Linked DNA regions of Homo sapiens: region 2 is linked to region 1. Evidence: fine-mapped expression QTL. A gene starts in region 1. The other region holds a variant in brackets. All regions are shown on one strand. Distances are between the middles of the regions.

The links.
Region 2: its variant is fine-mapped to the expression of TMEM120A in whole blood (TOPMed, PIP above 0.99).

What each region holds. Positions count from the first base shown.
Region 1 is chr7:75,990,580-76,001,160 of GRCh38, forward strand. It overlaps TMEM120A (transmembrane protein 120A), which reads right to left and starts at 4,016. Exons shown (of 12, transcript NM_031925.3): 1 at 3,911-4,016; 2 at 1,860-1,978; 3 at 1,565-1,681. The coding sequence starts at 3,991. STYXL1 (serine/threonine/tyrosine interacting like 1) reads right to left here. Exons shown (of 9, transcript NM_001317785.2): 8 at 10,311-10,423; 9 at 5,763-6,020. The coding sequence ends at 5,889. RefSeq lists silencers at 452-746, 3,738-3,797, 3,808-4,257 and enhancers at 1,497-1,556, 10,226-10,581.
Region 2 is chr7:75,611,369-75,623,083 of GRCh38, forward strand. The region is part of intron 1 of HIP1 (huntingtin interacting protein 1); the gene reads right to left. Among named protein-coding and RNA genes, the nearest start is that of HIP1, 120 kb to the right of the region's middle. RefSeq lists enhancers at 91-664, 5,953-6,454. The variant C/T (reference allele first, on the strand shown) is at 6,643.

The sequences.
Region 1 (10,581 bases):
CAAGCTCTAAAAAGTCTCCCAGAGGGCTGGGTGCGGTGGCTCACACCTGTAATCCCAGCACTTTGGGAGGCCGAGGCGGGTGGATCATGAGGTCAGAAGATCGAGACCAGCCTGACCAACATGGTGAAACCCCATCTCTACTAAAAATACAAAATACAAAAATACAAAAATTAGCCGGGTGTGGTGGCGGGCACCTGTAATCCCAGCTACTCCGGAGGCTGAGGCAGGAGAATCGCTTGAACCACGGAGACAGAGGTTGCAGTGAGCCGAGATCAAGTGACTGCACTCCAGCCTAGCGACAGAGTGAGACTCTGTCTCAAAAAAAAAAAAAAAAAAAAAAAGTCTCCTAGACTTGGCTGTCTCCCTTCCTTGGCTCTTCTGTCATCCCCAAGATCGACATCCATCCCCTTCCACCAAATGGTTCTGCCAAGATGACCCAACTTCCAGGAAGCGCATCCCCTTCCTTATCACAGGACTGACCCCAGGCTACGGACACTCCTTTCTTCTCCCTGCCTTCTGGGCCACGCCCTCTCCCAGCTATCTCCCTGCCTGCAGCCTCTGCTGGGATTTTTTGCTCAGCAGGGGGTTTTGCACTGCCCCATCCGTCCTCCTGGGTGACAGCTGCTGGCCTTTCCAGGTGCACATTCCACCGCCCCCGCCCGCCTACTGGGCTCAAGGCAAGAGCTGCAGCCCAGCAAAGCCTCTGATCTCTTGGCTGCCTCTCACCTCCCGCCCCGACCTCTGGCCACTACAAGTTCTCATGGCCCGTCCACCTGCTGCTACCTCTCGCCCTCAGCCCATGTGTCTGCCTCATTTTTTTTATTTATTTACTTATTTATTTTTTAAGACAGAGTCTCACTCTGTTGCCCAGGCTACAGTCCGGTGGTGCGATCTCAGCTCACTGCAGCCTCCGCCTCCCGGGTTCAAGTGATTCTCCTGTCTCAGCCTCCCAAGTAGCTGGGATTACAGGTGCATGCCACAATGCCCGGCTAATTTTTGTATTTTTAGTAGAGATGGGTTTTACCATGTTGCCCAGGCGGGTCTTGAACTCCCGACCTCAAGCGATCTGCCTTGGCTTCCCAAAAAAGTGCTGGGATTACAGGCATGAGCCACCGCGCCCAGCCTATTTGTTCTTTTTAAATAAATAGAGACATAGGGTCTCAGTATGTCACCCAGGCTGGTCTTGAACTCCTGAGTTCAAGTGATCCTCCCACCTCCATCTCCCAGAGTGCTGAGATTACAGGTGAGAGCCACCACGCCCGGCCCACTCTTTATTCTGTAAGACTCAGCCCACCCATCCCCTAATCCAGGAAGCCTTCTGCGACCTCCTGGACTGGGTCAGGTGTCCCTCACTGTGCCACCTCATTCCCCATGCTACAAAGCACCTATCACAGTGAAATGTCACTCTCAGCCAGGTGTCTCCCCTGAAGTCAGCACTGTGCCTCATTGCTCAGCCTGTACTGGGCCCAGGGAACATTTGCTGACTATAATGACCAAGAGGAGGCAGCACCCGGCTTCAGGAGTGGCTGTGAACTGAGCTGGGGGTGGCGGTGGGGGCCCTCACCCATTCTTCTTAGGCAAATAGGCCTCCATGTCAAAGAAGAGGCCTTGGCGCTCTTTCATCTGGTTCTCCAGCTCCTGTGCGGCCCCCTCGGCCTCTGCTGGGAGGGAGGGTTTGCATCTGCGGGTAAGGCCAGAAACAGTCAGGGCAAGAGGACTCCCAAGTGTCCTCCCTGACTCCCACAGGGGCAGAAGGGCAAACAGGGCCCAGAGAGGGGAGGGGCGGTGCCCAGGGTCTCACAGCGCCAGCCCTCCCACCCCACACTCTGCCCATGGCGGGTGGGGTAGGGGATCCTAACTTCTTCAGGGCGAGGGCCAGCTCCTGGAGCCGCTTCTTCTGCCGCGTGATGGAGCTGGTGCAATTGTTCTGAAGTTTGGTCAGCTCCTCCAGCTTCAGGCGGTAGAGCCGATGGGTCTCCTGGGGGCCGGAGGGGAGAGGCTCAGGCCAGTTGGGGAGCTACTGAGCCAGAGCCTGCAGGCAGGACGTGGCGCTCAGGCTCCCCCAGGGCTGCTGGGAGGGTTTCGCTCAGCGGGAAAGGAGGTAGAACTGTGCCTGCCCAGGGATGAGGTGGCTGTCTCCCCAAGGCAGGCAAGGACCTGGGTGTCCTCCTGTGAGCCCAGAGACCCCCACAGCACCCCTCCTCCAAAAACAGACTAGGTGTTTTTGTTTTTGTTTTTGTTTTGAGACAGTCTTGTTCTGTTGCCCAGGCTGAAGTGCAATGGCAGGATCTCAGCTCACTCCAACCTCCGCCTCCCGGGTTCAAACCATTCTTCTGCCTCAGCCTCCCAAGTAGCTAGGATTACAGGCACCTGCCATCATGCCTGGCTAATTTTTGTATTTTTGTAGAGACAGGGTTTCACCATGTTGGCCAGGCTGGTCTTGAACTCCTGACCTCAGGTGATCTGCCTGCCTCGGCCTCCCAAAGTGCTGGGATTACAGGCATAAGCCACCGCACCCAGCCAAGGTTTTCTTAGTCTCAGCCCATCTGCTAGTTGTCCCCACCCTACAAGGACAGACTCTTTCTCCTACCTTGAGTCTGGAGCTTAGGCCCCCAGGGCCACCTCCTGGACCAAGCAGGCAGCCCAGAGCCACCCCTCTATCCTCTCAGCTCCTCCTGCCTATCTAGCCTTCCAGTACAGGAGGAGCTCAGGTTCTCAGGAATCCCTGACATCTTCTTCCCAGGTTAAAGGTCATCAGGTTTCAACCCTAGAGCCTCCTGCTCTAAGGCCAGCCCCACTCCCTTCCCCTAGCACCTTTGGCCCAAGGATTCCCCAAGCACTTTGCCCTGGTAGGTGAGTCTCAAGAAGGCGCAGCCTAGAGATGGGGCAAGGGGCAGTGTGAGGAGAGCCAAGCAGGGGCTGTGGCCAGGACAGCGGCGGCCAGGCGGGGAGACTGGGTCTGCTCAGTCTCTGGGGAGAAGCACCAATGGCAGGGGCCTTGGCAGGGCCAGGGGCAGCTGGGTTTCAATGCCCACAGGAAGCAGTTGGAACCAGTCCAGGAGAGGCCAAGGGCTAACCAAGCCATCAGCTGGCCAGGGCTCTACTCTGTCTGGATCTTGTTTCTCATGCCCAGGAGGGGTCACCACGCCCCCTCGGACCCCAGCACGTGCCACTTCTGCCCACCCACAGCCACCGCCCTCTTCCCTGCCTGGATGAGGCCAACAGCCTCCTCCTCCCTGGCCTCTGGACAGAACAGCCACGGTGGCCCTGGGGAGCTCAGTCCAGACAATTCCTCCCGTAGCTTTCCACTGGCCTCGGAGGGACTCTGATCTCTGCCAGGCCAGAGCGTCCCTGCAGGGCCTAGCCCCGCCCACCCCTCCCACCCGTCCCACCCCTCCCCTGGTTCTCCTTGATGCAGCCACATGGGCCTGTCAAGTCCCCTCTTTCCTTCCAAAGGCCTCGGCGGCGCGCGGTATCCCTCTGCCTGGGGCGTCCCCCATCCAGGCCGAGGACACCCCCCTAAACGCTGCTCCCCCGACCTGGGCTGCCTCTCGGGCGCTGCCCGCTGCGCGTTTGCTGAGTGGCTGACCCAAGGCTGGGCCCGCCCGTGTGTGACTCAGGCGGCCGCTCTCTTCTGGGAAGGGACGGGGTCGGGGTCTGGGCCCCTTTCCAAGGCCCTCATTGGAAGCCGAGGTCGCCCAGCGCGATGGGGTCCCGCCGGGGTTCCCGGACACTGGAGGTGGTGGCAGTGGACACCAGGACCAGGGGCCTCGCCCCCCTTGGCAGTGACGCCAGGGCCCCGACCCCTGACCCTTAGCTCCCCACTGCCTGACCCAGGGCTGCCCGACCCTTGACCCTGAGCCAGCGAGACGCGGCTCGGGGGCGACCCGGCGTCCGCAGCGGCGCTAACCTGGATGTTCTGGAAGTCCTGCTGTAGATCCTCCCAGTCCCGCAGGCAGTCGCCCAGCGGGCCCGGGGGCGGGGGCTGCATGGCTGCAGCGCCAGTAGCCAGTAGTGGAGGACGGCGCAGCAACCCCGGCCCACCCGAGGCTCCTCCGCCACCGCCCCCGTCCGCTTCCGGGCTCGCGCCGCCACGGGCACCAATGGGGAAAGGCCACGCCCCCCACCCCAGCCAATCCGGGACAGGGGCGGGGTATGGGCGGGGCCGTATGCAAGGGCGGTTGCTAGCCCCGGGACTCGCGGCCTGGACCGGGACTGGGACGGCTGCAGCCCCCGGGCCTGGACTGCACTGACTGTGCCAGCCGCGTGGTGCAGCCAGCAGGGCTCTGGCCCGTCATGCTGAGAGCAAACCAAGGTGCAGGGAGGTGACACCTGCTTGCAACATTTTCGTCCTTGGGAAGCTGAGCCTCTTTGGGGAAGGGAGTTAGAGCTGCTTCTCTCGCTTGGATTTTTACAGCGGCCTCCTTTCTCCCTGCCTCACCTCCACTGTCCCTTCTCGCGGCCACCGGACTGCCCTTCCCAAAACACAAGGCTGATTCCCCATCATGTTCATGCTTAAAACTTTCCAGCGGCTGTGTCCTGCCTACCAGGAGGTCCCTAATCGGAGCTCTGCAGCCATCCCGGGCTCTGTCCCAACTCACACCCTGAGGAAAGCCAGGGCTGTGTGTAAAGCCGTTCCCCCTCTGGCAAAACCCCACTCCTCCTTGAAGGCCTGCCCTTCTGTTGAGGGGAATCCCCCACCCCCTCCCACCCCCATCCCTCCACAGAGCGCGCTAAGTGGTGGGACGGCATTCATCTCTCTGTTCCCAGCCCCACCCACGCGGTGGCAGGGAATGGTTGCCGAATGGACTTGGGGAAGGTCCTGCATGGATGGACATCCTAATCCCCTACCAGTCCCCTAGTCTGTGCCGTCTCCTGATGCCCAGTTTGTTCTGTGGGTGCTGCCAGCTTTGGAGAAGTGCATTTGGAAAACAACTTCCAACTGGGTGCCGTGGCCCACACCTGTAATCCCAGCATTTTGGGGAGGCCGAGGCTGGAGGATCACTTGAGCCCAGAAGTTCGAGACCAGCCTAGGCAACAGAGCAAGACCCTGTTTCTACAAAAATAAAAATAAATTAGCCAGGTGTGATGGTGCATGCCTGCATTCCCAGCTACTCACTCAGGAGGTTGAGGTGGGAGGATCGCTTGAGCCCAGGGAAGTTGAGGCTGCAGTGAGCCATGATTGCGCCACTGCACTCCAGCCTGAGAGACACAGCAAGACCGTGCCTCCAAAAAAAAGGAAAGGGGGTAAAAAAAAGGAAAACTTTTAAGACCTTAGGAATTTCTAGAAACGTGGATAGGGAGATGGGGGAGGGGGTGAGAATCTCTCCTTGGTGAACACAGCCAGGCAGAAATGAGTGGGGAGCAGGGAAAGAAAATCTGTTTCAAGGGGTGGATGGCAGGAAGCGCTGGGGATGAGGCAAGGGTGTGATCCCATTCTAGGAGCCTGGGGGCTAGACAAGGCTGGGCTTGGTATCTCTGGGACTAGGGGACTGCCTATTGGTGGCTATTGTGACATCCTCTGTGAACCAACACAGGCAACCTCTGGGTACCCCCAGGCAGCCTCCAAAGGGTCTAAGTCACCAGGGGGATGCAGGGCAGCTGCTCTAGCAGCCAGATGCTCTTCCAGAGGCAGCCTCAGGGGTGCAGTTGGGATGGCCCGCGACACCTCAGGGATGCGGGTTCTTGGTGAACCTGAGCAGGGCGCATCAGCTAGGTGGCGTGAACAGGCACTTGGGAAGAATCAGTACAGGAGGCTAACATGAGACTTTCAGGCAGCAAAGGCCTTCTCCTTCCAGACAAGCCTGGGTATACACACTCTGGCCCTCCACCCACAAAATGCCCCCAGGTGAGGCTCTTCAGTACCCTTCGGTGGGCCTCGGAGAAGATCAGTAGAGCGGATCCATGATGTTTGTGATGGAATCTCCAAGGATAGTCTTCTCCCATTCCAGCAGCTGGCTCACCAATCCCCGATTTGGACACATGTTGTTTTTGCACTTCTTGACATAGGCCCAGGACCTCTATGAATACAAAGAGAGAAAGTGAACTTCACGATTGGTCCTGGGCCCTTTCCACTTGGATCAGAGGCAGCTTTCAGAGACAGGAGGCACTTGCACAGTGCCAGCAACACGGCTTAAGGGCTGGATGCAGAAACAGGGCAGCCTGGCATGAATGCATCAGTGCTGGGAGTCATGGGAGCTGACTCTGCCTTGGGCAAGCCCCTCTGCTTCTAAATCTGGTGACAGAAATAATTCCTATTTCAAACAGCTTCTGGGAAGATTAAGACAATATACATGAAACCACCTGTGGATGGCAAACACTATGCCAAGCCTAGTGCAGTCTCAACAAAGGTTTGCATTGTGACTGGACAAATTAATGGAAAGAGGAAGAGAACTGTGGGCAAATTCTCTGAAGAAGAAAATTCAAGCTGCCCTCCTTCAGGCATCCACCTTAAAGTACAGGAAGTGTTGCTGCATGAAGGAGGGTGAGCACCTGGTCTCCATCTGGATTGAGGACAAACGAAAAAGGGAAAGGCAAGAGTGGTGCCTAAAACTAGGAACAGAAGGAAATGGCCAGGCACAGTGGCTCATGCCTGTAATCCTGGCACTTTGGGGGGCCGAGACGGGTGGATCACCTGAGGTCAGGAGTTCGAGACTAGCCTGGCCAATGTGGCGAAACCCTGTCTCTACTAAAAAAATGCAAAAATTAGCCAAGTATGGTGGCACATGCCTGTAATCCCAGCTACTTGGGTGGCTGAGGCAGGAAAATTGCTTGAACCTGGGAGGCGGAGGTTGCAGTGAGCCGAGATTGCACCACTGCACTCCAGCCTGGGTGACAGAGCAAGACTCTGTCTCAAAAACAAAAAAGGAAGGAAGTGATGTCAACCTGATAAAGGCCATATATGAGAAGCCCACAGCTAACATCACACTCAATGGCGAAAGATAAAGTTTTTCCTCTAAGATCGGGAACAAGGCAAGGGTGCTTGCTTTCATCACTTCTGTTCAACATAGTCCTAGAAGTCCTAGCCAGAACAATGAGGCAAGAAAAAGAAATAAAAGGCATCTACAATGGATAGGAAGAAGTAACCTTACCTCTGGTTTGAAGATGACATGATTTCATATGTAGAAAACCCTAAAGATTACACACACACACAACACACACACACAGCTAATAAATTCAGCAAGGATGCAGGATACAAAACCAACATGCAAAAATTAGTTGCATGTCTATATACTAAACAATTCAAAAAGGAAATTAAGAAAACAATTCCATTTACAGTAGCATCAAAAAGAATAAAATATTTAACCAAGGAGGCAAAAGACTTGTACACTGAAAACTCCAAAACAGTGCTGAAAGAAATTAAAGGTACAAACAAATGAAAAGACATCCTGTGTTCATGGGTTGGAAAGCTTAATATTATTAAGATGCCAATACAACTCAAAGTAATCCACAGGTTTAAGGCAATCCCTATCAAAATCCCAACAACATTTTTTGTAGAAATAGAAAAATCCATCCTAAAATTCATATGGAATCTCAAAGGACCCCATAAAAAATATTTAAGAAGAACAAAGTTGTAGGTCTCACACTTCCTGATTTCAAACCTTAGTCTAACAAAACTACAGTAATCAAAACAGTATGGTATGGACATGAAGACAAAGAGACTAGTGGAATAGAATAGCCAGCCTAGCCTAGAAATAAACCCTTACCTATATGGTCAAGCAATTTTTTTTTTTTTTGAGACTGAGTCTCACTCTGTTGCCCAGGCTGGAGTGCAATTGTGCAATCTCAGCTTACTGCAACCTCCGCCTCCTGGGTTCAAGTGATCCTTGTGCCTCAGCCTCCCAAGTAACTGGGATTACAGGCATGTGCCACCACGCCTGGCTCATTTTTGTATTTTTAGCAGAGACGAGGTTTTGCCATGTCAGCCAGGCTGGTCTCAAACTCCTGACCTCAGGTGATCTGCCCACCTCTGCCTCCCAACCTGCTGGGATTACAGGTGTGAGCCACTGCACCGGGCCTGTCAAGGAATTTTTGATAGTATGCCAAGACCATTCGATGGGGGAAAAGGACAGTCATTTCAACAAATGGTGCTAGGAAAACTAGATACGCCATGCAAAGAATGAAATTGAAAACAGGAAATCAATAGAGAAAATCAAAAAAACCAAAAGCCGGTTCTTTGAAAAGATCAATAAAATCGATACACCGCTAGCCAGGCTAACTTAAACAGAAGACACAAATTACTAATACAGAAGTGAAAGAGAAGACATTGCTACAGATCCCACAGACATTAAAAGGATAATAGAAGAATATTCATATCCACAAATGTGATTGATCAATTCCTTGAAAGACACAGACTGCCAAAACTCACACAAGAAGAAACAGACAATCTGAATAGGCCTACATATATTAAAGAAATTGAGTGGTGGCAGATGCCTGTAGTCCCAGTTACTCGGGAGGCTGAGGCAGAAGAATGGCATGAGCCCGGGAGGCAGAGCTTGCAGTGAGTCGAGATTGTGCTACTGTACTCCAGCCTGGGTGACAGAGCGAGACTCCGTCTCAAAAAAAAATAAATAAATAAAATAACAATAATAAATTGAATCAATAATTAGTAACCTTCCAAAACAGAAAGCACCCAGCCTAGATGGGTTTATTGGTGAATTCCACACATATAATGGAATATTATTCAGCCTTAAAAGGAAGGAACTTATATAAGGTACCTAGAGTAGTCAAATTCACAGAGACAAAAAGTAGAATGGTGGTTCCCACGGGGCGATGAAGAGGGGAAAGTAAAGAGTTGCTGTTTCAGGTTTGCAAGATGGAAAAGTTTGGGAGATTAGTTGTACAATAATGTGAATGTACTTAATGCTCCTAAGCTATACATTTTAAAATAGTTAAGATGGTAATTTTTTTGTTGTGTGTGTGTGTGTGTGTATGTGTGTGTGTGTGTGTGTGTGTGTGTGTGTGTGTGTGTGTATATTTTTTTTTGAGACAGAGTTTCGCTCTTGTCACCCAGGCTGGAGTACAATGGTGCAATCTCAGCTCACTGCTGCCTCTGCCTCCCAGCTTCTAGCGATTCTCCTGCCTCAGCCTCCAGAGTAGCTGGGATTACAGGCACGCACCACCACGCCCAGCTAATTTTTGTATTTTTAGTAGAGGGGGTTTCACTATGTTGGCCAGGCTGGTCTTGAACTCCTGACCTCAGGTGATCTGCCCGCCTCGGCCTCCCACAATGCTGGGATTACAGGCGTGAGCCACCGCGCCCGGCCTGTTATGTATATTTTAACCACAATTTTTTTTAAAGTGGTGTGAGGGGCAGAGCTGTGCAGTCAAAAGGCTTACTATGTCCTCGCTGGGTCAGAACAGGCCCTGGAGGAAGAATCGTAAACCACCCATCCCCCACCACCACCCCACACATCGCCTGGCCAAGATGGTGAAACCCTGTCTCTACTAAAAATACAAAAATTAGCCGGGCATGGTGACACGGACCTGTAATCCCAGCTACGCGGGAGGCAGAGACAGGAGAATCGCTTGAACCCAGGAGGCAGAGGGTGCAGTGGAGGTTCAAGAATCGCTTGAACCCAGGAGGTGGAGATTGCACCACTGCACTCCAGCCTGGGCAACAGAACAAGACTCCATCTCAAAAAAAAAAAAAAAAAAAAAAAAAGGACTTTCTAGCCTACAACTTCACCCCCAAAGTGCACATGGGGGCAACAACCGAAGCCACTGGCCAACGAGTTTTATTCTTTGTCCCTCTCCTTCCCCCAAAAACATCCCTGGGCAAATGTTGGGGCTTTGTAGGTCCTATCAAGCCCTCTGGGGATCACGAACAGGCTGTGACAGGCAGGGCAGGCCCTCGAGAAAGGTGCTGTGAGTTAGGAGCTCCGAGTTCCGCCTGGGTTTGCTGCGATGGGTCCCTGCTTCCCTCTCTTCTCTGGACCCTGCGCCCAAGGTACAGGGAGATAGACGGGAGTGGGTGGGCGCCTGTGCTGCAGCTCTGGGACTCCAAGCAGTTCTCCCTTGGGCAACACCAAACAAACACAGGTGGACGGCCTGACAGCAGTGGGGGCTGCAGGACAGCCTGACCTGGCCTGAGTCCCTGGGCCAGCCCTGCATATCCAGCCTCAGGCCTCAAGCATGCAACACTGGGGCCTTGCCCTTGGGTGACGCGGACTGGGGAGCACCCTAGACTTGGAGTTATCTGGGATTCTTCCTCCCAAAGCAGTGCTGGGGCCCCACTCCTCCCAGGTTGCGCTCTGACCTCACCTCCCAGGGGGTGGCCGTGGTGCGAGCCTGGCCCGGGGAACGCATACCTGCAAGGTCTGCTCGTTACTATGCATGAGGTAGGCTATGATGGCGGCACAACTGCGGCTGATACCTTGGGTGGAAAAGATCAGAATGACAGAGCCAAGGTGATGGTGAATTTCTGCAAAAAGAAGTGGGGGGTTGGGTCATGCCTGGCCCTCCTCCCTGTGGGCCTGGGTTGCTGTCAGACACTGGCCTCCATGGGCCCGTGGTCCAAGCATGAGTTCAAAACCAGCCCACGTGACCTCGGCAAGTCCCATGATTTCTCTGGGAGCCCAT
Region 2 (11,715 bases), 380 kb before region 1:
AGGCAGGAGAATCACTTGAACTGGGGAGGCGGAGGCTGCAGTGAGCTGAGATGGTGCCACTGCACTCCAGCCTGGGTGACAGAGTGAGACTCTGTCTCAAAAAAAAAAAAAAAGAAAAAAAAAAGTCCCAGGTATGTGATTCACAGTCTCTTGAGAAAATCTACTCCCTTCCCCTCCCGGCCCCAGGCTCTCTGAAGGACATCATTTGGTTCTGAACTGTTCCCGCCCCGCCACAGGCCAATGCCTGGGGGCCCCTCCCAGCACCAAGGGCGGGCAGTGCGGGGCTGGGTGTCTCACCTCTGGAGGGGGCTCTGGGTTAGGGAACATCATCTGAGAACAGGCTGTTCTCTGGACTTCCCTGGAGTCACACAGGACCTAAGACCAAGCCGTGTCTCCCCTGAAAGGGTGGCATTGTCCACCACTTCCTGACCCAGCAGGCCCTCGTGTCCCCGGCTGGTTCCGGAGAGCCAATTACCAGCAGGCACCGCAGGAAGGGCGCCTTTCTCCCAGCCTCTCTTCCTCCCTCCCCAGCACTCCCCATCCTCCGCTCGCCTGGGACAGCCCAGCCAGGCAGTGGCCAATGGGAAACCCTCTGGCCTTGCTTGTGTGGGGAGCTGGGCCTGGGCCTGGCCTGTGGGCCCAGTTGGACACTGTCAGGTCACATACACACAGCTCTTGGCAGAAGCCCAGCCCTCGGGCTGCCAAGGCCAGGCTGGCTCACAAAGGTCCCACGGCAGGAGCAGGCACGGGGATGTGCCCCGGGTGGGGGTGGCAGGTCCCCAGGCAAGGGGCCAGAGAAGGAAAACCTGAGAACAGGCAGCACAGATGGGAAAGGAGAAGGGCAAAACAAAGGCAGAGGAGGCCGGGCACGGTGGCTCCACCTGTAATCCCAGCACTTTGGGAGGCGGAGGTGGGCGGATCACCCAAAGTCAGGAGCTCCAGACCAGCCTGGCCGACATGGTGAAATCCCATCTCTACTAAAAATACAAAATTAGCCAGGGGTGGTGGCGCGTACCTGTAGTCCCAGCTACTCAGGAGGCTGAGGCAGGAGAATCACTTGAACCCACGAGGTGGAGGTTGCAGTGAGCCGAATTCGCGCCACTGCACTCCAGCCTGGGTGACGAGAGAAACTCTGTCTCACAAAAAAAATAAAATAAAGGCTGGGCGCGGTGGCTCATGCCCGTAATCCCTGAACTTTGGGAGGCCGAGGCGGGTGGATCACCTGAGGTCAGGAGTTCAAGACCAGCCTGACCAACATGGTGAAACCCTATCTCTACTAAAAATACAAAAATTAGCCAGGCCTGGTGGTGGGCGCCTGTAATTCCAGCTACTCAGGAGGCTGAGGCAGGAGAATCGCTTGAACCCAGGAGATGGAGGTTGCAGTGAGCTGAGATCGTGCCATTGCACTCCAGCCTGGGCAACAAGAGTGAAACTCCATCTCAAATAATAATAATAATAATTTTTTTAAAAAGAGGCTGTAATCCCAGTACTTTGAGAGGCCGAGGCAGGCAGATCACTTGAGGCCAGGAGTTCAAGACAAGCCTGGCCAACATGGTGAAACTCCGTCTCTACTAAAAATACAAAAATTAGCTGGGCATGGTGGCAGGTGCCTGTAATCCCAGCTACTCAGGAGACTGAGGTGGGAGGATGGCTTGAGCCCAGAAGTTCAAGGTTGCAGTGAGCTATGATCATACCACTGCACCACTCCAACTTGGGTCACACACACACACACACACACATGCACACAAAAGAAAGAAAAGAAAACTAGAAAGAAAGAAAAGAAAATTGGCCATGGCAGGTTGCAGTACAGGTGGCAATAGCTCAGGTTAACAGCTGGGACCTACCACCTGAGTGAGGATGACAGGGAGAGTACAGAACCAAATGGAGATCAGGTGAGCCTGGGAGAGTAGAGGGACAGGTGAGGCATGAAAGCCAAACAGAGCGTCCCCACCGTGGGGAGCCTTCTGTGCTCCGTGAGACTGCTCTGGTCCTAGCTACAACACTTGGAATTTGCTGCCCAACATCAGGGTCTTTTTAATTCTTCTCTTGATCAAAAATAATAATAATCATCATAGAGCCATTGTCACCAGATTAGTGGTAGTAGCAGGAGCCACTGACCCTCACTTGGGCCTCTTCCTCCTCCCAGGCACTGCACTGGTAATTTACTTCTCATCCGCCTTTGGTCCCTAGAGGGCAAGAAATCTGGGCCCCTATTTTCCAAGACAAGCTACTTGCAAGTAGTACAGCCAGCAAGAAGTGGAGCCAGAATTCAAACCCAGGTCCATCTGAGAGCGCCTCCTCTCCCACACCGTGCTGCCTTCTGTAACTGCCAGGGTCCAACACAAACCTGTTGCCAACCAACGTCCTCCACCCTACTGTCTGCCTCACCTTCTGTTGCCCAGGCTGGAGTACAGTGGTGCAAACGTGGCTCACTACAGCCTCAACCTCCTGGATTCGAGCAATCTCCCATCTCAGCCTCCCAGGCAGCTGAGACGACAGGTGCATGCCACCACACCTGGCTAATTTTTAAATTCTTTTGTAGAGATGGGGTTTGCTATGTTGCCTAGGCAGGGTCTCCCTCTGTTGCCCAGGCTGGAGTACAATGGTGCAAACATGGCTCACTACAACCTTAACCTCCTGGGTTCAAGCAATCCTCCCATCTCAGCCTCCCAGATAGCTGAGACGACAGGTGTATGCCACCACACCTGGCTAATTTTTAAATTCCTTTGTAGAAATGGGGTTCACTGTGTTGCCTAGGCAGGTCTCAAACTTCTGGCCTCAAGTGATCCTCCTGCCTCAGCCTCCTGAGTAGCTGGGATTATAGGCACATGCCACCACACCCAGCTAATTTTTGTAGAGACGGGGTCTTACTATGTTGCTCAGGCTGGTCTGAAACTCCTGGGCTCAAGCGCTTTGGCTGTCCCAGCCTCCCAAAGTGCTGGGACTACAGGCATGAGCCATGCGCTGGGCCCTAAAATGGTGAATTTTATGGTATGTATATTTTACCACCACACACACACATAGACACACACACACACACACAGTTACAAGGTAGATAAGCCTCCAAAACATGCTACATGAAAGAAACCAGACATGAAATGGGACACAATGTGTGATTCTATTTGTATGAAGTGCTCAGAATGGGCAGATCCATAGAGACAGAGAGCTGACTGGTGGCCACTGGGGCCTGGTAGGAGAGGGGTGGGGAGTGATTGCTTAATGGGAACAGGGTTTCCTTTACGGATAGTGAAAATGTTCTGAAATTAAACAGTCATGTCGGTTGCACGACATAGCGAATGTGCCAGATGTTGCTTAATTATACACTTGAATTTGTTACAATAGCGAATTTCATGTTATATGTATTTTGTCACAGGAAAAAAAAAGATAAAAAACACTGAGAAACTGATTTTTTTTTCTTTTTCTGAGACGGAGTCTCACTCTGTCACCCAGGCTGGAGTGCAGTGGCGCGATCTCGGCGCATTGCAACCTCTGCCTCCCGGGTTCAAGTGATTCTCCTGCCTCAGCCTCCTGATAGCTGGGATTACAGGCACCCACCACCCCGCCTGGCTAATTTTTGTATTTTTAGTGGAGACGGGGTTTCACCATGTTGGCCTGTCTTGTCTCGAACTCCTGACCTCAAGTGATCCACCTGCCTCGGCCTCCCAAAGTGCTGGGATTACAGGCATGAGCCACCACGCTGGCCTGAGAAACTGATTTTACTGAATACCTACTACACGCAGGGCAAGGCTGCCACACAGATAGTAAGGCTCTTTGCCATACAACCACAAGAGGGCCTTTCACAGACAGTTGTGGACAGCCATGCACCTGCACATGGCTGCCAGGATCCAGGGCACCACACCAGGGGCTGTGAGAGAGCACACAGATGATAGGAAGTGGACCCTGTGGCCAGGTGTGGCAGCTCATGCCTGGAATCCCAGCACTTTGAGAGGCCGAGGCAGGAGGATCACTTGAGGCCTGGAGTTCAAGACCAGCCTGGGCAACATGGTAAGACCCCATCTCTACAAAAAATGAAAATTTAGCTGGGGATGGTGGTATATCTGTAGTGGTGGCTACTTGGGAGGCTGAGGCAGGAGGATTGCTTGAGCCCAGGAGTTGGAGGCTGCAGTGAGCTATGACTGTGCCACTGCACTCTATCATGAATGACAGATGGAGACCCTGACTCCCCACCCTTAAAAAAGGTGGATCTTGTCCTCAAAGGGACAAAGACTGTACTACTCCTTCCTGTCCTTTCCTTCCTTCTCCTCTGACTGTGCTTATGCCTGTAATCCCAACACTTTAGGAGATTGAGGTGGAGGATCGATTGAGCCCAGGAGGTGGAGGTTGCAGTTGAGCCGAGATTGTGCCACTACACTCCAGCCTGGGTGACACAGCGAGACTCTGTCTCAAAAAACAAAAACAAAAACAAACAAAAAATGGCCAGGCGCGGTGGCTCATGCCTGTAGTCCCAGCACTTTGGGAGGCTGAGGCAGGCGGATCACCTGAGGTCAGGAATTTGAGACCAGCATGGTCAATATGATGAAACCTCGTCTCTACTAAAAATACAAAAATTAGCTGGGTGTGATGGTGCGCACCTGTAGTCCCAGCTACTCAGCAGGCTGAGGCAGGAGAATCGCTTGAACCTGGGATGTGGAGGTTGCAGTGAGCTGAGATCACACCACTGCACTCCAGCCTGGGCGACAGAGTAAGACTCTGTCTCAAAAAAAAAAAAAAAAAAAAAGAAAAGATAAGAAAAGAAAAGAAAACAAAAACAAAAACAAAGTATCTCGTAACATCGTCCTAGACAAGAATGAGAAAGGACAGGCTGCTAGGGGTCCAAACCACCGCCCACCAGCCAAACCTGGCCTCAGCCTGCTTGTGCATGGCCTGTGAGCTAGGACTGGTTTTTGTGTTCTTGTTTAGGGACAGAGTCTTGCTCTGTTGCCCAGGCTGCAGTGTAGTGGTACGATCATAGCTCACTACAGCCTTGAACTCCTGGGTTCATGCAATCGTCCCACCTCCACCTCCCAAGTAGGTGGGCCTACAGGTGCGCACCACCACGCCAGGCTAATTAAAAAATTTTTTTTTGTAGAGACCGGGTCTCACTTTGTTGCCCAGGCTGGTCTTGAGCTCCTGGCTTCTAGCGATCCTCCCACCTTAGCCTCCCAAAGTGCTGGAATTACCGGCGCTAGCCACCATGCCTGGCTTTTTAAGGGTGGGGAGGAGGAGGAGGAGGAGGAGGAGGAGGAAGAGGAGGAGGACGAGGAGGAGGAAGAAATAGTAGCAGCAGGAAGCCACAAAGCCAAAAACATTTACCATCTGGCCCTTTGCAGAAAATGTTTGCTGGCCCCTGGACTAGGCAGGGCAGCCTATGAGGGTGGATGTCCACACATACAGAGGCTGATTACTGGCCATCACTTTGGGGTAAGGCATGCTGGTGCCTGAGCCTGTGTCCTCCTCCTCATGTTTACCAGGGAGGTATATGTCAGGCACAGTGATTGATCTAACTGATGCTGGGAACAACAGTAACTACATTTAGATGACTATTTTTTTTTGTTTGGACAAGGTCTTGCTCTGTTGCCCAGGTTGGAGTGCAGTGGTGCAATCATGGCTCATTGCAGCCTCGACCTCCTGGGCTCAAGCAATCCTCCCACCTCAGCCTCCCAAAATAGTTGGGAGCACAGGTGCATGCCACCACACCCAGCTAATTTTTTTTTTTTTTTTTTTTGAGATGGAGTTTTGCTCTGTCACCTGGCTGGAGTGCAATGGCGTGATCTCAGCTCACTGCAACCTCCGCCTCCCCGGCTCAAGCGATTCCCTTGTCTCAGCCTGCCAAGTCGCTGCGATTACAGGCACCCACCATCACTCCCGGCTAATTTGTTTTGTAGTTTTTAGTAGAGACGGGGTTTCACCATGTTGACCAGGCTGGTCTTGAACTCCTGACCTCAGGTGATCCTCCTGCCTCGGCTTCCCAAAGTGCTGGGATTACAAGCGTGAGCCACCGCACCCAGCCACTAATTTTTTATTATTTGTAGAGGTGAGGATCTCCCTGTGTTGCCCAGGCTGGTCTCGAACTCCTGGCCTCAAGCCATCCTCCTGCAGCGGCCTCCCAAAGTGCTGGGATTACAGGCGTGACCCACCGCGCCCAGCCTCAGCCTGGTTCCTTGCGTGAGTCTTGGTTTCTTGGTCTCCTTTTCCCCGTATGCCAGCTGCCTCCCTCCATAAGAGAACATCTGTGATGACCTTCGGGGTGCCCACTTAGGCTTTCAAAGGGGCCTGGAATGTAGGGCACAGGGTAAGAGACTCGGACACCAGGCCTTGGGGAAAAGGAGAAGCGGGCCCATATGCCCTCCTCTCACCCACAGGGAGCTGTGGCTTCGAAAGGGGCTCCTCCCTTGTAAGGCTGCTGCTCCTGTCGTCATGGAGGAAACCTTGGTTCTGCTTCCCTAGCACCCCAAACTGCAAAGTCACGCTGGCAGGTATTGCACCCAGAGGGCTCATTCCCCATTCATCATAGTCACTGGTTGGGCAAGTCACCCTCCCTAGAAAGCGCAGCCTTGGGTAAATCCACCAGACATATCCTGATCTTTCACTATTCACAGAGCCAGACTGGAGTGGCCTTTCGTAATGGCCCTGGCCAGAGCT[C/T]CCGGGGGAAGCCTTCCGGATAGGCAGCTTGTCAGCAAGAGTGGGAAACCCTGGGCTGCGCCCTCCCCACAAACCACCAGCATTGCCCAACTTCCTCTCTTCATGCCCTCTACCACCCTCTCGTTGCCCCAGCTTTCTTTCTTTCATTTTTTTTCTTGAGACACAGTTTCACTGTCACCCAGGCTGGAGTGCAGTAGTGTGATCTCGGCTCACTGCTACCTACCTCCACCTCCTGGGTTCAAGCGATTCTCACACCTTAGCCTCCCGAGTGGCTGGGATTACAGGCACGTGCCACCAACTCTGGCTAATTTTATATTTTTAGTAGAAACAGGGTTTCACCATGTTGGTCAAGCTGGTCTCAAACTCCTGACCTCAAGTGTTTCATCTGCCTCAGCCTCCCAAAGTGCTGGGATTACAGGTGTGAGCTACCACACGTGGCTAATTTTTGTATTTTCAGTAGAGATGGGGGTTTCACCATGTTGGCCAGGCTGGTCTTGAACTCCTGACCCCAGGTGACCTGCCCTCCTCAGTCTCCCAAAGTGCCGGGATTACAGGCATGAGCCACCGCACCCAGCTGTTTCCCCAGCTTTCTAACAGTGAGGTTAGTTTTGTCTCTTCTCTTTTATTAATATACTGCTACTTATCTCCAATGATCTGAAGACTCAAGGTGGGTGATGCCTGACTTACAGGAGATCCCCCAGCACGGGAACCATCCCTTATCCAGCTCTGGGTCTCTTGCAGTGTCCAATTTCTAGAAGTGACCTTTCTGTCAAGTGAATGAGCCAAGCCCCAGCCACATCCCAGCACTAGAAAACCTGATGCCTCTCCCTTGAGCACATCCTTTTTTTTTTCTTCCAAGTTTTTTTGTAGAGATGGGGTTTCACTATGCTGCCCAGGCTGGTCTCAACCTCCTGGGCTCCAGTGAGCCTCCCACCTTGGCCTCCCACCCAACATCCTTGACATCCCACCTTTTGTTCTATTTCTGCAGGAATCGCTGTGTGTAGAAAGAAAGCCTTTGGTCAGTGGTTCCCAGACTTGGCTAGGCCGGGATATCATCTGAGAATCCTGTACCCCGAGTTTGTACACACACCCCTAGATTCCTTTGCTCCACCCCCAAATTGGACTCATTTGGGCTCGGAAGGGCCCATGGCACTGTTAATTCAGGTGATGTTACAGAAGAACATTGTATGTCAGAGTCTAAGAAAAAATTCAGCTAAAAGTAAAAACAGTGGCCGGGCACAGTGGCTCATGCCTGTAATCCCAGCACTTTGGGAAGCCCAGGTGGGCGGATCACTTGAGGTCAAGAGTTTGAGACCAGCCTGGCCAACATGGTGAAACCCCATCTCTACTAAAAATACAAAAATTAGCCAGGTGTGGTGGCGTGTGCCTGCTGTAATCCCAGCTACTCGGGAGTCTGAGGCAGGAGGATTGCTTAAACCCAGAAGGCAGAGGTTGCAGTGAGCCGAGATCACTCCAGCCTGGGCGACAGAGCAAGACTTTGTCTCAAAAAAAAAAAAAAAAGAGAAGAAAAACAGTAACAAAAAGGAAGAATGAGAGCAAAGAATAAAGATGGTGGAAATGTGAAGAATGAAGTCAGTTTCTCAGCTCAGACAAGTATACCTTGATGTAAGTAAATTTTTTTCTGGAAAATGTGAATTGCCACTAAGGCCAAATTAGGAGATTATTATTCATTTCACAGAAGACATTGGCATTCGATACCCTTAAATAGCAATCTCCGTTAGTACATTTAAGAGAGGATTCAGTTTACAGAAGTGTGATTTATACAAAACCACATCTGTTACATAAAGCTCAGAAAAATAGCTCTCCTCCCATGTCATCTTGCTAACTATAGAACTGGCCCAGTATAGATGGTCACCTATTTTCTTCTAAAAGATACCACCCCTGCTCTCTGTCATCTATTTCTGTTTCACCGTGATCACGGGTAACAGATTCTTAGGGGCCACCCAGATCTCTCTCTGGTCTTCCCTAAACTCAGGGAACAACTGCTCTGAATTGTTTTCATATTCACTCATTCATTCGACATATATTTCTGGAAGGCCTATCATATGCCTGGCACTACTCTAGAAATACAGTGAGGGTGCGGTGGCTCATGCCTGTAATCCCAGCGCTTTGGGAGGCCAAGGTGGGTGGATTGTTTGAGCCCAGGAGTTCAAGACCAGCTGGGGGCAACATGGTGAAACCCTGTCTCTACAAAAATACAAGAAATTATCCAGGCGTGGTGGTGCATGCTTATAGTTCCAGCTACTTGGGAGGCTGAGGTGGGAGGATCACCTGAGCTCAGGAGGCAGAAGTTGCAGTGAGCCAATATTGCGCCACTGTACACCAGCCTGGGCAACAGAGCAAGACCATGTCTTTAAAAAAAAAAAAAAAAAAGGCCAGGCACAATGGCTCATGCCTGTAATCCCATCACTTTGGGAGGCCAAGGTGGGTGGGTCACTTGAGGTCAGAAGTTCGAGACCAGCCTGGCCAACATGGTGAAACCAGTCTCTACTGAAAATACAAAAATTAGCCAGGGGTGGTGGTGCATGCCTGTAGTCCCAGCTACTCGGGAAGCTGAGGAACAAGAATTGCTTGAGCCTGGGAGGCAGAGGTTGCAGCGAGCTGAGATAGCACCATTGCACTCCAGCCTGGGTGAAAGAGTGAGGCTCTGTCTCAAAAACAAACAAACAAACAAATAAATAAACAAAACCAAAATAAAACAGCAAGGAACAGAGATGACGATCTCTGTCCTCACGGAGCTTATATTTTAGCAGGGGAGACAAGCAGTAAACAAATCGGATGGCGAGAGGTGCTATGGAAGAAAGATAAGGGCAAGGATAGGGCTGGAGTGTTCTAGGCAGCATTATAACCTCCCAAAGGGTCACTGAGAAAGGCTGTACTGAGGTGACAGAGGGATACAGACTTTAAAGTGACGAGAGGCTGGCGTGGTGGCTCACACCTAAAATCTCAGCACTTTGGGAGGCCGAGGAGGCAGGACTGCTTGAGACCAGGAGCTTGAGAACAGTCAGGGTGACATAGCAAGATCCTGTCTCTACAAAAAAATTTAAAATGAAAAAATTAGCCTGGCTTGGTGGCAGAGGTGGGAGGATGGCTTGAGCCCAGGAGTTTGAGGCTGCAGTGAGCTACGATAGGGCCACTGCACTCTAGCCTGGGCAGCAGAGTGAGACCCTGTCTCAAAAAATAAATAACATGAAGAGGAAGTGAGCCTGGTACACACCTGGGGGAAGAGTTCTAGGCACACGAGCAGAAGCCCAGCTGGCAGGCGCGAGGAAGTATGGCTAGAGCCGGAAGTCAGGGGCAGGAGGGGCCAAATCCCTAGAGGCCTCGTGGCTCATGGTGAGGACTGACCTTTGTTCCACATAAGACTGGGGCCACTGGAAGTGGTTTTGTTTTTTGCGGTTTTTGGTAAAGACGGGGTCTTGCCATGTTGCCCAGGTTGGTCTTGAACTCCTGGCCCCAAGCGATCCTCCTGCCTTGGCCTCCTAAATTGCTGAGATTAACAGGTGAGCCAGTGTGCCTGGCCTCCCTGGAAGGTTTTGAGCAAAGCGGTAAAACGATCTGATTCAATAGGATCCCTCTGGCTGCTGTGCTGAGAACAGACTGCAGGGACCAGTGTGGCTGCAGGGACCACAGTGAAGACTCTGCTGCCTTCAATCAGGACAGAATTGATGGTGGAGGCAGAGGAGGTGTCGAGACGTGGTCGGTCTCTGAATTTATTTTGAAGCTAGAGCTGATGGGATTATCTGATGTTCTGGATCTGGGGTGTGAGGAAGGAAGGAGTCAAGGAGAACATCGTGATGATTTGCCTGAGCAACTAGAGGGACTGAGCTGCCATTAACAAGCTGGGGGGACCCATGGGAGAGTTGGTTTGGGGCTAGGTTAGACATGACACACCCACCAGGTATCCCAGTGGAGCTGTGGGTGAGCAGTGGGCTGTGCCGCATCTGGAGTTCAGAAAAGGTCTAAGCTAGGCCAGGTGTGGTGGCTCACACCTGTAATCCCAGCACTTTGGGAGGCCGAGGTGGGCAGACCTCTTGAGGCCAGTTCGAGACCAGCCTGGCCAACATGATGAAACCCTGTCTCTACTAAAAATACAAAAATTAGCCAGATGTGGTGGTGCACGCCACCCAGCTGACTCGGGAGGCTAAGGCAGAAGAATTGCTTGAACTCAGGAGGTGAAGGCTGCAGTGAGCTGAGATCATGCCACTGCACTCTAGCCTGGGTGATAGAGTGAGACTCTGTCTCAAAAAAAAAAAGAACAGGTCTGAGCTACATTTATAAATTTGGACGGAATGTAAGAGTGGATAAGAGCACCAAGGAGTGAGTGCAGATGAGATGTCTGGGGACAGCCTGAGGACACCCCGACGTTCAGGAGAGACAGGAGGCCAGGTACGGGCAGTGGCTCATGCCTGTAATCCCAGCACTTTGGGAGTCCAAGGAAGGAGGATTGCTTGAGCCCAGGAGTTCGAGACCAGCCTGGGCAACACAGTGAAACCCCGTCTCTACCAAAAATACAAACATTGCAAGTCTTAAAACCTGGTCTCTAAATAAATAAATAAGGATAGGAGGGAATCAGTGATGGAGATAGAAAAGAAACAGCCTGTGAGGTTGGGGGAAGCCAGGAGACTGTGGCACCCTGGAAGCCATATGAAGAAATGCATTTTGACCGGGCATGGTGGCTGGTGCCTGTAATCCCAATGCTTTGGGAGGCTGAGGCAAGAGGACACTTTGAGCCCAGGAGTTGGAGGCTGTAGTGAGCTATGACTGCGTTACTGCACTCCAGCCTGGGCAACAGAGCAAGATTGTCAAATAAATAATTATCTATCTATCTATCTATCTATCTATCTATCTATCTATCTATCTATATATTTTTTAAAGGAAATTGGCTGGGTGTGGTGGCTCACGCCTGTAATCCTAGCACTTTGGGAAGCTAAGGCGGGCAGATCACCTGAGGTCAGGAGTTTGAGACCAGCCTGACCAACATGGTGAAAGCCTGTCTCTAATAAAAATAAAAAATTTAGCCAGGCGTGGTGGTGCGTGCCTGTAATCCCA